Regions from separate parts of the Homo sapiens genome. Here regions 2 and 3 are each reported to be linked to region 1. Evidence: microRNA targets listed by miRTarBase, many of them from high-throughput screens and not tested one by one. Region 1 holds a microRNA gene; each other region holds the end of a gene's coding sequence. Distances are between the middles of the regions.
What was found. Region 1 holds the annotated microRNA hsa-miR-4695-5p (CAGGAGGCAGUGGGCGAGCAGG, at 3,373-3,394, opposite strand). A microRNA usually pairs through its seed, bases 2 to 8, with sites in the 3' UTR of a target mRNA and lowers its output. Matches are read on the target gene's strand: a 7mer-m8 pairs with bases 2 to 8, a 7mer-A1 pairs with bases 2 to 7 and ends in A, and an 8mer does both.

Region 1 (5,298 bases):
AAGCCACCACCCTGGAGGGCCTCGCCTCCTCCCCAGGCTCCAAGTGTGACCAACCTCAGCACCACAAAACAATAAAAATGCTAATCACCCGGGAGCCAGCGACACAGTAGCTAATACTAATTTATGGCCTTCCCACCTTTAAGCCCGCTGCTCATCAGAGCGTGGAGAATGGGGTCCAGGCCCGCTCCGCCCGCTGATAGGCGGGGAGCCCAGGGGCCCGTGGCTGGCAGAGCAGGCCTTTTGGAAAACGGCCCTTCTCAGCAGTTCTAACGCTGCCACCACCCACTCCCACCCCCAGCAAAGCTGCGGGGAAGGGGGTGGCAGAGCCTGGGGCCTGGAAGAGGAGGTAAGAAGGACCCTGAGCTGCAGACCCGGGCGTCTGGCTGCCTCCAGGCATCTCCACCCAGATAACACCCGAAGTGACCAACAGGAGATTCATCTTCCCCCGAGCCCGCTCGCCCTCCCAGGTGCCCATCTTGAACATTCTCGCTGACAACCCCCCTCATCCCCACACGCACCCCAACCCCAACTCCAGGACAGGCAATGGCCACTGTGCCTCCCTGCATCCTTCTCACCTGAACCTGCCCCCTTCTCCACATCCCCCATCTCTCCCCTGGTTCAAGCCCCTACCACCCCTCCCTGGAGGTCAACAGTCCCTGGCCAGTCTCCTGCATCAGGTCACAGAGAGATCACTGAGAATGAGGGTGCCAACACAGGGGCCCAGAGGAGCCAGCAGGGAAAGGAAACAGCGTGGATCAGGTATGCAGGGAGCCAGAGGGCACCCACCCACTTCCAGCCAGTGGTACCACCAGGAAATGCAAGATCAGAGCATCCAGGTCCAGGGGACCAAGACAGGCCAATATTTGGATTTATCTATGAAATTGTCCCAATTATACAAAGTTGGGCCATCACTGTTAGGAGTCAAAGAAAGTAGAGCCTCTTGCCAGATCCAATTTGGGGGCCATTATTTGCAATCTCTGCCTGACACAGAACTCTGACTCAGCCACTCTCCCTGCTTGAAGCCTTCCATGGCTCCCATCACCTTCAGGATAAAGGCCAGACACCTTTGCAGACTCCTAAGTATCTTATGGTCACTGAACCACTCCCTGCCGCCACCTCCAGCCTGAGAGCCGGGACCTTGTCCCTGGTGTGTGCTCACCACTGAGCCTTAGTGTGAGCTCCAAATTTCCTGCTCAGCCAGTGAGTGCATGGATGGTCGAGATCAGGTAGTGGCCTGCCTCCCCTACCTCAACTCAAACCATGCCCTGCCCTCACTCTCTTGCCCTGTCGCCCCCAAACTCCACACTCCAGCCACACAGGATCCTGCCATGCCCCAGAGCACAAGTTTTTGGCTTGGCAACATTGTATGTGCTATTCCCTCTCCCAACATATATATTCTTCTCCTGCCTCTTCCCCTCTGCCTGGCCAACTCCTCTGCTTAGATGTCACCTCCTCCAGGAAGGCTTCCTGACTCCTCCAGTTCATTCTGTGCTCCCCTGTGCCCTTTCCAGTAGCAGAGGTAGCACTGAAATCAATATTACCCACAGCTGTAGGGTGCACTTCCAGTCTGCGAAGCTCTTTCCTGTTCATTAACATGTTTAATCCTTGCAATGACTCTGCAAATTAAGGATAATCACTCCCTGTACAGGTGAAGAAATGGAAGCTCAGAGAGGTGAAGTGGCTCACTCATAGCCACACAGCAAGTAAGGGAGTAGAGTCCGTGCATGACCCCTGGGTTCACAGCCCCATCCCCAGGCAGACAGCAGGTGAGCAGGTGAACGTCCCCTAGCCACCACAGCCTACACCATCCCCAGGGACTTACGGCACACTGCCTGTGAAGTTGATGCCACAGAGGTGCTCTGAGCTGGTGACAGTGTCCCCAAATAGGGGCCCATCAGCTGGCACAAACTGGATGATGTTGGGGGGCAGGCCAGCCTCCCGAAGGATGCGGTAGACAGCATAGCTGGCCAGCATGGCAGTGTCACTGGGCTTCCATAGGACCACGTTGCCCTGCCCGGGAGGTGTTTCAGTGATGCATGAGGATGGCGCCACCAGCCCCCAACCCCCACCCCACCCTACCCTACAGCATGGTTGTCCCTCACCTGGAACCACCAGACTCTGTGCCAACCAGGACATCCCCTACCCGACCCCACTCCTCCAAGGCGTCTGGCCCTATCTCCAAAAGTCCCTGCCAAGGAGGCCACGGCACAGCCCAATCTGCCCCACGCTCTGGCCAAGGCTCCCTTTCCCCAGAAGCCTGCACCAACCGGTCCTGCCATCACCTAGGCAGGTCTGTTCTTACTGCTAGAGTCACTGAGTGCTCACCGGGCGCGGCGGGGCAAGTACACACGGGCTCTCTCAGCACATGTCCTGGGTCAGGCATGTGCAGCAGCCAGGCACGTGGGCGCCTGGCCATGCACCGTGTTTGTCTGTGCACAGATGCATGAGGACGTCCCCATCCATGTCCCTAGTACACACTCCGGCATCAGCATCCAGTGCCCCTGTCTGGGGCTCGGGGTTCCCGACAACTATGTGGACCTCTCCCACCCAGGCTGTCTGGGAGCTGGGCTGCACCTCCCCCACAGGCCTGGGACTTCATCCAGTAATAGCCAACCTCACTCCGATAATGGCAGAGGAGTGACTTGAATACCATCAACCCCGAGAGAGACTACATCCAAATCTTTCTCTGCTCCATCATTTATTTACTAGTCACTCAGTCTTGCCAAGTAAGTCACGGCTGTGTGTCTCAGTTTTGTCATCTGGCAAAGAGGCAGAGTCACAACTCCCTCTCGAAGCTGCTGAGAGGATGAAATGAGATCATCTCCATGCCGTGCTTGACAGCAGCAGGCACGTGGTGAGCACTGAAGGTCAGCGGTAATGATCATCAACAGAGCCACCAACACTCAGCCAGCTCCGGGCCAGCCCTGCCTGCTGCTGGATGTGTCTCATTTGAGCCTCACAACCCAGTCATGGAGGCTTTCCTATTATTTCCACTTTGCAGATGAGGAAACTGTGCCTCAGAGAAGTTCAGGGATTGCCAGGGTCTCCCAGGCAGAGAGGCACGACGCTGGGATTCAAACTGGGTCTCTGGTCCCAAAGCCTACCCACAGCCCCAAGCTGCCTCCACCTTCTGTGCCTCTCCCCATGACTAGGCTGAGACCCAAGGGGCTCAGGGTGGCCTCTGTCTGTCTGTTGGGACCAGGAGGACAACCAGCTGCCGCTGTCCCACCTGTGCCCACATCTCACCATCAGGGCCGGTGCCCCCGCCAGGTTGCCGCCGATTGCAGTGAAGTTAAAGGGCGAGATGGCCGCCACGAAGCCCTGGGGAAGGAGGCAGCGGTGAGATCAGGCCCATGGCATTGGGCTGCCCCGCCTGCTCGCCCACTGCCTCCTGCAGGTACCTCCAGACCCCGGTACACCGTGCTGTTGGTGCTCGGGGGCACGCTGATGGGCTGCTGCCCCTCCAGCTCCACCGCATACTTGGCATTGAACCGGAAGAAGTCGATGAGTTCCGCTGCAGCGTCAATCTCCGCTTGGATCACGGTCTTACCCTGCAAGGCAGAGGGCCGGGGGTCAGGAGCAGCCAACAGCCTCCTGTCCATCCTCTTCTCACATCTGACGCTGTGCCCAAAGCGAGCACTGAGCCGGGCCCCAGGAGGGACCAGGAAACATTTGGAGGGCTCACCAGGTCCCATCCCAGGGGCTGAGGGGGAAAGGATTCTCAAGCCCCTGAGCTAGCACCTCCTGTAGCCGGCCCTCTGGGCTGGACGGGGATCAGAAGAATTTTAGTGATCCTCTGTAGCAGGCCAGGTACTTGCCATGCACTGTCTTCATTTCATAGCAACTCTGAATGGTGGTGCATGGCAAAGGATCTATGGTCAAGCCTCAGACTAAATTCAGGATCAGAGCCTTCCAGACAGAAGGGCAGATTAGCATGAGCTGGAGATTGGTCACTGGAAAACCAGGAGAGAGACTCGGTGTGTGGGAGGTGGATGGCTCCTTCCCCAGGAATGATGTTCGGCCTTGCTGGTTAGTTTGGGCCAAAAACCAAGAGGCGAGTGACTGTGATTCCCTTAAACCGTCAATTCTTAATAACAGCAAATGTGAGCTGCAGGGAAAAGAACTGTGGACAGCCAAGAACGGGGCTTTTCCAGATTGACGTGGCCTCCTCTTGGCACCCAAGGTCACTGGCAGGTGCACGACCTATTAGAGACACACAGCCCATGAAGCTGAGCTAAGATGTGTACCTTGCTTCCTAGAAGTTCCTGAGTCTTAGGCCAAATACAGAGAAAGCCTAAACTGATCCTAGACTGTCTTCCCAGCAACGTGCGGCTCACCAGGAACACGCAGAGCTGACGCCCACCCCAGAGGGCTGCTGAGCCAATCTAAGAAGGCATTTAGCAGGCTGAGGGGCTGTCATACCAGCTCTGTGCAGCAGAGGGGGCGCTCACCATGGGGACCGAGGAGCAGGCAGTGGCAAATGCCTGATCCAGAAAGCAGCCTGGGTTCTGGCTCCTGCAATTTACCCTTCAGGAACCCAGGTTAGTTGGCAGCGTAGGGCTCAGGTCCTGGAGGTGGTGAAATAACCCTTTCTCCCTCGACTCCTGTCCCCCGCACACTCTGCCTGCTAGAGCCACTCCTCACTCAACTTGCATTTAGCAGGGTGAGGAGCTGTCATGCCAGCTCTGTGCAGAGAAAACCATTGATCAGGGGCTTGCTATGCCTCCTGAAAGGTATCATGCAAAGCCCAGAAAAAGACCGAGAATGTCAAGACATGTTTACTATGTCCAAAAAGCTTGTAAAGGGGCAGTACCTAGGAACTCAATACACTCCAGTGCAATCTGAGCTGTAACTGATGCAGGAACAACATGCTCTGGGGAAACAGAGGCAGGAATAGTCCTTTCGGCTGGAGAAGGCTCAGGAAGTCTCACGGAGGGGGTGACATCTGGGCTGGACCAGGAGGTAAGAGTTCACTGAGCACGGAAGAGACAGCAGGCATTCCAGGCAGGAGGACACGTGGGCAGAGGCAGAGAGGATGCCTGCCATGGCCGGGGAGTCCTGCTAAGTGCCAAATGGCTACACTATGGGCAGGACAGCTTGGCAGGGAAATGCAGAGCAGTGGGCGAGCTGGACAGAGGTGGGCAGAAGGGCCCTGGGTATGGGGCTCAGGTCTTGGGACTTGCCTCTCAGTGGTGGAGAGGTCTGGGTGGGTCATAAGCCAGGAGTAACATCCTGGAGGTGTTGGAAAGACCACTCTGAGGGCGGCGAGGGGCTGACCAAGCTAGGAGGCAGGGAGAC
Region 2 (5,298 bases), 190 Mb from region 1:
CAGTGGGTGGAGAAGAGACAGGAGAGGCTTAGCCAGAAGGCTGCCACGGCAAAGGGCTCCCCTTAATGCTTCGTCATCAACAACCTTAGGTAAGTGTCAGGATCTTTACATATCTTAGTTCATTATAGCTCACACAAAGGCAGCTGTCATCTCAGATTACAGACGAGGAGGCTGAGGCCAACTGAGGCCAGAAGTGGCAGAGCTGGGATTTGAACGCAGGATTGGTTGAAGCAGTAGCAGCGTGGGGTGGTTCCTGATTCGCTTCAGGAGCAGAGTAGAGTGGACTAATTGGCCATGAGGATGCACGGGCAGCCCCTCGGGGTTAGACGCCCGGGGTGCCAGACCCGCTGTTGTGGGTGAATGTCCCCAGCGCCCTCCCCTCCCGCCCAGGTTCCGGCAGCTGCTGGCGGAGCAGGAGCCCGAGGTGCAGGAGGTGTCCCAGCTCTTCCGCTCGGTGCTGCAGGAGGTCCTGGAGAGGATGAAGCAGGAAGAGGAGGCCCACAAGCTGACGCGCCAGTGGAGCCTGCGGCCCCGCGGCAGCCTGGCCACCTTCAAGACCCGCGCGCGCATCTCGCCCTTCGCCAGCGACATCAGGACCATCTCCGAGGACGTGGAGCGGGACACACCGCCGCCACTGCGGTCCTGGAGCATGCCCGAATTCCGGGCGCCCAAAGCCGACTGACCCCGGCCGCTTCCCTGCCCAGAAGCGGAGCCTTCTGCAGGGGGAATGATAGGCCGGTGACCGGAGCGCCGGGCCCTGGAACCTCCCCACCTAGGCCTGACGAGGAGACCCAAGAGGCGGCCCCATCCCAAGACGCTGCTATAAAATGAAGCGACTCCCTGCCCCATCCTCTTCCTCTGGCCACAAAGCTGAGTTAGGTCGTAGAGCGGCACCGCCCTCTCCCTCTCCTGCGCTAGTCTGCAGGAGCAGCCCCTTCCCTAACTGGCAGATTCAAGGTTTTGGAAGACAGACCATTGCCCCATCCTCATCTCCTGGTTCTGTCTAAAAGGGGACAGTTGCCCTGCCTTTTGGCAAGACCTAGGTTCTCACCCCAATTTCAGGGATGTCCCATTCACCCCCCTACCCCCATCCCCAATGAGAAGGGACCTGTTGGCTGGTATGCCTTCTTGCTAGTGACTGGCTGAGCTCACCACTGCAGGTGGGTCACACACAGCCTCATAGGCAGGCACAGCTGGAAGGGACCAGAGAGACATTTAGATCCACTCTCTTCAGCTAGTAAATGTGGAACTTGAGGCTCAGAGAGGGACACTTCTTCTGCCTTTAACTGCAGCCAGCTCCTCATGAACAGTGAGATTGTTCCTGCATGAATAGTGTCTGTTCCTGAGTTTGGAATCCTGGGCTATGAAGGGACAGGTCCAAAGGCTACATCTCTACCTACCTGTGGCCTGATCCATCTCTTACCTTGGCAGTGGGATGAGAATCTAAGCTGCTCTCCAAGAAGTGTAGCTAGGGGTGGAGGTAGGTTACTCATTACCCCACGCCACAATGTCATCGCATGGGCTGTGGCCAGTCCCTAACAGCTTCTTCCAGAGGCTCAGCTCCAAGGACTTCAGATGCTGCCCTAAAGAGCCCAGGTTTCTCAATTCCAGGGTTCCGCTTTCTGCAGCTGGTCACACCTGCTCTCTGGCTTTCTCCAGAAAGTGATGCCCAAACCCCTGACTGACCTTGAGGCAGCTGAGTGAAATGTTCTAGAAGAGCTTCCTGCAGCTTCATTGTCCTTCCCTTTTCTAACATGGTTAGGCCTTGATGATGGGCATGTGGATTACCCAATGTGTGGATCACCCATGGAAAATCTGGAAGGCCAGGAGGCCTTCCCACACACTCTGGGGTTGAAGTGGGGTGTAAGGGGGATGGGTGGGGAAGTGTCTACCCTCAACTACCAGCACACATGCAGAAAATGCAAGTGGACCTTAATAGTAGCCTAAATAAAATACCCGGAGGAGATATAATCAACAGGGGGGAAAAGTGTGTATTCCCTCAGTGGAAAAAAGTTTTTTTGAATGATTTGGTTTTGAACTTCCCTTTTGAAGTTTTTTTGGATTTTCACTTGAATCTGGACAGAGAATCATAGGATGGTGGAAAACCTCTGATCCAACACTATCAAGATGAAAGAGTTGATTGGCTTATTAATGTAATTGGTAGAAGTTGAGAATCACTTAAAATATACATCTTAAACATCTTACGTATTTTATTTGAAGACATAAAAAGTTCACTTGGTTGCCAAACTTTTTTTTTTTTTTTTGAGACTGAGTCTCACTCTGTTACCCAGGCTGCAGTGCAGTGGCGTGATCTCGGCTCACCACAACCTTTGCCTCCCGGGTTCAAGTGATTCTTCTGCCTCAGCCTCCTAAGTAGCTGGGACTACAGGCACGTGCCATCACCCCAGCTAATTTTTGTATTTTTATTAGAGATGGGGTTTCACTATGTTGCCCAGAATGGTCTTGAACTCCTGACCTCGTGATCCACTCGCCTTGGCCTCCCAAAGTGCTGGGATTACAGACATGAGCCACTGTGCCTGGCTGCCAAACTTTTGATGTGGGTCCAAGCTGTGCTTTTTTGTGACCTATATGTTTTGTCTGGTGGGAGTTCTACACTTAAGTTTTCTTGGTTTGCACTTTAATCATAACAATAAGAACAACTGGCGTAAAAGAGTTTTGGAACAAGCAGAAGTGACCCTTGGTAAGCAGACTGCTCAGCTGGTAGGGGCAAAAGTGTTGGGGGAGGATTAGAAAAAGGCCTCCACATTGTGGGCTTTCCGGGTGCCCTGGATGTGGGTCAGCAAATGTTTTAGAGGAAGTAGTTAACCTGGAGGGAGATTCAAAGGAGGCTGGATAAGAGAATGTCTATTTTTCTCCTTCCCTATCACCTTACATGTACCTATTCTCCCCAAAGAGAAGGAAGACCTTAGGCTTTCAATGTGGTGTTCTTTCTTAAGTTTAAGTAACTGGCTGCCAATGAAAACCTTCCCTTCGAGCCGCAGGCATGTGGACAGAATCCACCACCCTCCTTAGACACTCCTCAGACTACTACAGGCTATCCCCAGCTGGTGGCTCTCAAATTCATGAGGGTCCAGAAGTTGTTCCTCTGGATTCAGGTTGTTAAAGGGACTAATGAGGTCTGCTTCCATTACTATTATTGAAACCTCAATAACCACAAATAAAAGAACAAAAAGTTTGAGAGTGTCCTTGTAAGTATCTGATGAGTGGCTGGTGTTATTTTGGAGGGGATGGGTTGAGTGTGTTCAAGACTACCACAGCCAGCCTGTTTGCACCCAGCTCAATACCACTAGCCACTAGAGGGCGTGGGTGGGAGGCTTGTACTACTTGGTGACTACATTTTTTTTTTTAACTTATGAAAATCTTCAAACACAAAAATGTAGAGGGAGAAGTTTAAGAAGCCCCATATACCTACCATGAAAGTTTAATAGTTACTAACATTTGGCCATATTGTCTTTATTTTTGTGTGTGGAGTATTTTAAGATAAATCCCAAGGTGTTGTGACAATTCACCCCTGAATACTTCAGTATGCACTACATAGGAATAAAAACTTCTTCCTATATAACTATACTACCATTATCACTCCTAACAAAATTAACAGTGATTCTTTAATATTACCTAATGCCCTGTCCATATTCACATTTCCCTGTTCCCAAGAAATGATTCTTGCCGTTTATTCCTTTGAACAAGGATCTAATCAAGTCCCACACATTGACAAGAAAATTGCAGTTTATTTTTTTGTTGTTGTTATTTTATTATATTTTATTTGCAGTTTGTTTTACAGTGGTCATATAGTATTATGTAATTCCATAATGAAGCATTGCTTAAAGATAGAGTGCTTACGGAACACTCATGTTAACATGCAATAAGTTAGTGACTGAACACAAATGATAAAAATTCTGCAAATTAGCCTAATGATACGCTTTACTCAGATCCTCGTTATGTTATTTGATTAAAATTCTTCCATAGTCGGAACCAAGATTCCTTCATACTTTGAAACGTAATGTTAAAAATTGGTAGTGGCCTGGGCATGGTGGCTCACACCTGTAATCCCAGCACTTTCGGAGGCCATGGCGGGGTGGGGGGGCAGATCACGTGAAGTCAGGAGTTCAAGACCAGCCTGGCCAATATGGTGAAACCGCATCTCTACTAAAAATACAAAAATTATCTGGGCATGGAGACACATGCCTGTAATCCCAGCTACTTAGGAGGCTGAGGCAGGAGAATCGCTTGAACCTGGGAGGTGGAGGTTGCAGTGAGCTGAGATGGTACCACTGCACTTCAACTGGGCGACAGAGCCAGACTTTGTCCCAAAAAAAAAAAATTGATAGTGACAATATATCTAACCCGACTTTTCATTTGATGAAAATACTTGTCACATCATATGTTTTATTTACTAGGACATGCTTGCAAATAGCAACCTAAAACCTTCTCCCTTTTTCTTGCCATTTAGAAACAAAACACTAACATTTATCAAAATAACTCAGGGGAAATCTGAAGAATTCCAATAGCAGATAATGAAAAAAGTTTGTCTATTTTTGATGCCATTGTTCATCACATAGTTAAATTTCAGTCTATGTCTTAATATTCATATGGTCTCCCAAAAAAACACAATGTTACTTCAAAATTTATTCATAGACAAATTATTTTTAGAAAATTATTTTGATTTATTACCTTGACTCATTTGTTAAAAGGGGAAATTGACATCTATTTCCCTTTACAAATATTATTACATATTGCATCAAATTAGCATTATAATATTAAGGTGCTAAAGACAAAAACAAAAATTATTTCTTTATCATATTCAAGGCAAAAATAATAATTTAAGTTTCTAAAAATGTGCAAGTTTTTATATAACCGTAAAAGGTGTTCACAAGCCAATAGAGGTTGGGAAGTGTTTTCTAAAACATTTTATTGTATTGCATTCTAGTTACAATTCCCTTGTTGAAACAAACACAATATTCTTAAAGCTCGGCAGTAAAACTTGGAAGTTTTCCAGCTCAGTCTCCCAACTCAGCTAGGATTTGGTTCAGGGAAAATTACATTCCAGGAACAAGCTGTTCCTCTCTATGTGAACTGAGCACTGCAGCTAACTGCTTCGAAGCCACTTCTGGCACCTGCTCAGGGCCATAGGCCTCTCTAGAATCCAAGGCAAAGGGGGATACAGTTGAAGTTAACCTCTCCTTAGTAGAAAAGAAATCAAGCCACTAGGGAAAAAAAAAAAGTCTCCAAACTGTAAAAGGAACAGGGGAAATGTGTACTTTATCCAAATAAGCCAGC
Region 3 (5,298 bases), not on the chromosome of region 1:
TAAGGAGAGAGATACCAGACATGAGACAGTTGGTCCTATTCAACATTATTGACTCTTTTCATCATTACAGAGCTGACAGATGTCCAAAGCTACTGGGGTAAGTAGAAGCCATGGCCTCTTTGGGCTGGCACATTCTGATCTCCTTTCACATGCCCTCCCCAGACATAGCCACACAGATCCTAGGTGTTGATGCCTCCCCCATCCCCGCCATATAGTTCCAGTTCCTCCAACCACTTCCTGTGTTTCCTCTTCTCAGCATAACGAGACCCATGTCCCCGTTCTCATCTGCTGATGTTGTACCTTTTCCTACAGTTGACGTGACCCTGAATCCACACACAGCTAATTTAAATCTTGTCCTGGCTAAAAACCGGAGACAAGTGAGGTTTGTGGGAGCTAAAGTATCTGGACCTTCCTGTCTGGAAAAGCATTATGACTGTAGTGTCCTGGGCTCCCAGCACTTCTCCTCTGGTAAGCATTACTGGGAGGTAGATGTGGCCAAGAAGACTGCCTGGATCCTGGGGGTATGCAGCAATTCACTGGGACCTACATTCTCTTTCAACCATTTTGCTCAAAATCACAGTGCTTACTCCAGGTATCAGCCTCAGAGTGGATACTGGGTGATTGGGTTACAGCATAACCATGAATATAGGGCCTATGAGGATTCTTCCCCTTCCCTGCTTCTCTCCATGACAGTGCCCCCTCGCCGTGTTGGGGTTTTCTTAGATTATGAGGCTGGTACTGTCTCCTTTTATAATGTCACAAACCATGGCTTCCCCATCTACACTTTCTCTAAATATTACTTTCCCACTACTCTTTGTCCATATTTTAATCCTTGCAACTGTGTAATTCCTATGACCCTGCGTCGTCCAAGCTCTTGAATATTCTTCTGTTCCCACCCACTTCTGATAAGTACCCTGAGGCTTATCAGCATGTGATTCTCCCTTCTGATCTTCTGTTTTTCTGTGTTCTCAATTCTTTTGTTGTTTTTTGGTTTTTGAATCTTTTTTGAGATGGAATCTCGCTCTGTCGCCCAGGCTGGAGTGCACTGGCGCAATCTCGGCTCACTGCAACCTCTGCCTCCTGGGTTCAAGCGAACCTCCTGCCTCAGCATCCCAAGTAGCTGGGATTACAGGCACCCACCACCATGCCCAACTAATTTTTGTATTTTTATAGAGATAGGGTTTCACCGTGTTGGCCAGGCTGATCTCGAACTCCTGACCGCAAGTGATCCACCCGCCTCGGTCTCCCAAAGTGCTGGGATTACAGATGTGAGCCGCCGCGCCCAGACAGTTCTTTCGTTTTAAACAGTTACTCAGTACTAGGATGCACCCAGTGGTGAGAGTAAGCATCTTTGACTGATGACAGGTCTTGAGGTGGATAGGGGGCGCTTTCAGTATTTTGCCATTAAGCATAGTATTTGATGCAGGTTTTTTTTGATTGATGCAGGGGATCAAATTTAGGAAGTTCTGATCTGTTAATTTACTACAAGTTTTTGTATAAAATGAAAACTCGTATTCTACCTATGTCTTTTCTGTAAATTATTGAGACAATTGTGTATCATTTTTGTTCTGTTAATGTGGCTTAGTACATTGATTTACTTCAATTTGTTACCACAACTTGCTGAAATACACCATTATTATTTGTTGTATGCAATACTGGATTTATTTTGATAACGTATTGTTTAGATTTTGTTCTCATCTATGTTAATGAAAGAAATTGGCCTGTATTTTTACATTCTTGTAATATCTTTGCCAGGTTCTATAAAATGCAATAATAAGCAAATAAATTACTTTGTTTTTGTATAAGTATGTATAGGATTGAGCTCTAAAACCAAACCATTATAATGATAATTTGGGTAGCTTCAAACTCAAATTGAAGAGAGTCTTCACTACAATCTTCACTACAACCTTTGGCCTTCCTCTCTACATTTAAGAGTAGCAATAGAACAATAAAAAAAAATACGTCTTTCAAATTAATTGCAGTAAAAACAAAAGAGTAGTGGGGAGAGAAAAACAATCCAATACATATTTTTCTCTCAGAATAGAAAGAAAACACAAAGAGAAAATATGAACAATATAAAGCACTTAAAGGAAGAGGATGATTTCTTCCAGCTTTTCCACACTCTCTTTATGCGCAGGAACAAACAGCTGTTGAGTGAGCTGCTATGACTTTGGTAGAGAGGTGCAATATGTTTTTTGAACCAGCTATAAAAGAAATTAAGAGGTACATGTGAGGGTAGAAACAAATATCAAGGATGAGAATGGCACTGGCTGTCCCATATGGTATCCAGGAGCCACCAATGTCTGTTGAGTACTTCATACATGCCTAGTCTGAATTGAGATGTGCTCAATGTATAAAATATATACCAGATTTCAAATACCTACTTCAAAAAATAATGTAAAATATCTCACTAATAACTTTTCCTTTGTGTATTGCAATGATAATATGTTGGCTCTATTGGATTAAATAAAGTATGTTATTCATTTTACCTGTTTCATTTTACTTTTTTAATGTGGATACTAGAAACCTTAAAATTACATATGTGGCTTACATTGTATTTCTATTGGACAACTCTGGAGTAGATCCTATAATGAAATTTCTGTCCCTAAGTGAGCCCTAGTGTAAAAGCCTATGGACTCAGGATACAGAGGAGGTTTCAAGGCACATATGTTTATCTCTACAGAACCTGCACCTTCCCAGCTGCCCTGAGGCATTTTTATGGAAGGTAATGACAGAGAAAAGAAGATCTCAACATATCTAGAAGTGTAGAAATTTGGAAGATCATAGAAAGGGCTCATGACCAGAGAATGATTCTGCAGACTCTGGCCCCTGCCGTTAGTCCTCAGTCTGTTGGGCACTTGAAGCTCCTTCATGGTTTGATGAAACACTGATTTGTTATCAAGGCTCAGCTTGGGTGTCTATGGTGAGATAAAGTAGTGCAGATTATAGTAAAAGCTCACTACTGGTTTGTTCTAAGGCACCGTTTTATAATATTTGGGAGATCATATCTGTGGAAGCCCAGAGGCTGGATGCAAACTCCTTATCCTGGTCTGCGTTTCAATTGGAAGAGATATAAAAGGAGATAGGGCCAGCTGACTGGGACCTATGGGGCTGGTGGAAGTTCAGGAAAGAGAAAGATCTGCTGGAGTAGTTATCCCCTTCCCACTTATTTTCCCATATAATAAGTAAGTTCTAGGCAAAAGAGTTAGCCCAGCTCTCTTCTGTAAACTCATTTTACAAGTAAATTTACTTTCCAAGTGAATTTACTTTATAAGTAATTTTTCTTTTTTGTCACCAGAGTTCTAGGGATGTGGTATAGTTATCCTAATATTTCCCAAAATGTGAGTGCTTGCTAGAGCCGATATTTAAGTTTGATGCTAACTTAAAAAGAAGATTTTGGAAGGGAGAGGGACTTTCTTAACAGCTTTATTGTGATATTTACTTCTTTATAAGTAAATTCACTTGGAGAACCCAAAGTATTGTCCAGTGAATGACTTTAGATAATAGTGAAAGCCAAACTAAGTACTTGCTGGAATTCTATAGGTAAGACCTGGGGAAGGTTGCTCAATCTGAGACTTGGGGACAATTATTAGGGTAAGTTCACAGCTCTGACCTTTTCTTGAGGGGTTATGGGGGCTTGACAGAGGCCTTCTGTTCTTGACATGTGATAGAGTAGGCTCAACTACTATGAAAAAGAACTCTAAAAATACATAATGGATCAAATACTAAAGAAATGTACTTCTTGTTAATGTAAAACAATCGGTCATGAGTGTATGTAACTGGTGGTGAGTGGCACTGTTCCATGTGGGATTCATGCACCAAGCTTGCTTTCATCTTGTGGCACTTGCTGTACCCCAGAATGGTAACAGCATGAAGCTGGCAGAAAGGTGAAGAAAACTTAGGGGAGAAAACGTGCTTTTTAAATCCTTAGTTCATAGATGGGATTCGTAATATCTGCTCATTTTCTATTAATGAGAATAGCCATAGGGCTAAACCTAACTGTAAAGATTTTTTAAATGTCTAGCTGTATGCAATCATGTACAATCAAATTTCAAGGAAAAGAAAACTCAGATTTTGGTGGAAACTGCCTGGAACCCTAAGTAATCCTTTTTCCCATTATAGAGGACTCAGGATCTCAGCTTTTTTCTGGAACTATGTTAATTCCATTCTATAGCCTAAAGTTTGTAAAAGAGAACTGTATTGTCACTAAAGTTCTAGACATGTGGTATAGTTATCCTAATATTTCCCAACAAGCGAGTGCTTGTTAGAGCTGGCATGTAAGTTTGATTCTAACTTAAAAATAATCTTTTTAGGGGAAGAGGACTGTCTTAACATTATTATTGTAATATAACTGACATATAATACATTTCATAAAGTATATAACTTGATACATTTTGACTTGTGAAACTCATCACCATCAAGGCAATAAATCAGATGGGGTTCTTTTTTGTATATATAGCACTTAGAGCTATACATTTCCTTCTGTGGCTTTAAATGCATCTCACAAATTTTGATATATTCTCCATTCTATTCAAGATTCTATTTTCCCTTTTGATTTCTTCTTTGACCATTGAATTATTTAAAATTATATTTTTTCCCAAATCTATGAGGATGTTCATATATCTTTTTGTTATTGGTTTATAATTTAATTTTAAATGGTCCAGATACAGACTTTATATGACTTGAATCCTTTTTAATTGTATTGAGACTTGTTTTACGGTAAAGGATATGATCTATATTGGTAAATGTTTCATTTGCACTTGAAAGAAATGTGTATTCTGTGGTCCTGGGGTACAGTGTTCAATTAACATCATGTTAGTTGATATTATTCAAATCTTCTGTATCTTTACTGCTTTTCTATGAGAGAGGGGTGTTGAAATATACAACTATATTTGTGGATTTGCCTATTTCTCCTGCAATTCTATGAGATTTTGCTTTCTGATTTTTGAAGCTCTTTTGTAAGGAGCATACACATTTAGGAATGTTACATCCTGTTGATGAACTGACACCCCTTTCTCATTATGGAATGACCCTCTATCTCTACTAATATCTTTTTCTCCAAATTCTACTTTGTTAGGTATTAATTTAGCCACTCCAGCTTTCTTGTTTTTTGTTTTTTTTTTGTTGTTGTTGTTGTTTGTTTGTTTGAGATGGAGTCTCGTTCTGTCATCCAGGCTGGAGTGCAGTGGCGTGATCTTGGCTAACTGCAACCTCTGCCTCCTGGGTTTAAGTGATTCTCCTGCCTCAGCCTCCCGAGTAGCTGGGATTACAGGCACCTGCCACCACGTCCGGCTAATA

Region 2: miRTarBase lists RD3 as a target of hsa-miR-4695-5p. Seed matches in the 3' UTR shown: 8mer at 2,365-2,372.
Region 3: the mRNA of TRIM6 is a reported target of hsa-miR-4695-5p. Seed matches in the 3' UTR shown: 7mer-m8 at 1,076-1,082.

The regions. Positions count from the first base shown.
Region 1 is chr1:18,879,878-18,885,175 of GRCh38, forward strand. MIR4695 (microRNA 4695) reads right to left here and starts at 3,398; the gene lies at 3,325-3,398. ALDH4A1 (aldehyde dehydrogenase 4 family member A1) reads right to left here. Exons shown (of 15, transcript NM_003748.4): 6 at 3,402-3,551; 7 at 3,247-3,321; 8 at 1,823-2,010. RefSeq lists a silencer at 4,252-4,483.
Region 2 is chr1:211,474,420-211,479,717 of GRCh38, reverse strand. It overlaps RD3 (RD3 regulator of GUCY2D), which reads left to right. Exons shown (of 3, transcript NM_001164688.2): 3 at 391-3,196. The coding sequence ends at 682. Among named protein-coding and RNA genes, the nearest start is that of RD3, 15 kb to the left of the region's middle.
Region 3 is chr11:5,610,465-5,615,762 of GRCh38, forward strand. TRIM6 (tripartite motif containing 6) reads left to right here. Exons shown (of 8, transcript NM_001003818.3): 7 at 71-97; 8 at 313-2,488. The coding sequence ends at 878. TRIM6-TRIM34 (TRIM6-TRIM34 readthrough) reads left to right here. Exons shown (of 14, transcript NM_001003819.4): 7 at 71-97. It also overlaps a transcript of TRIM5 not described here. Among named protein-coding and RNA genes, the nearest start is that of TRIM34, 12 kb to the right of the region's middle.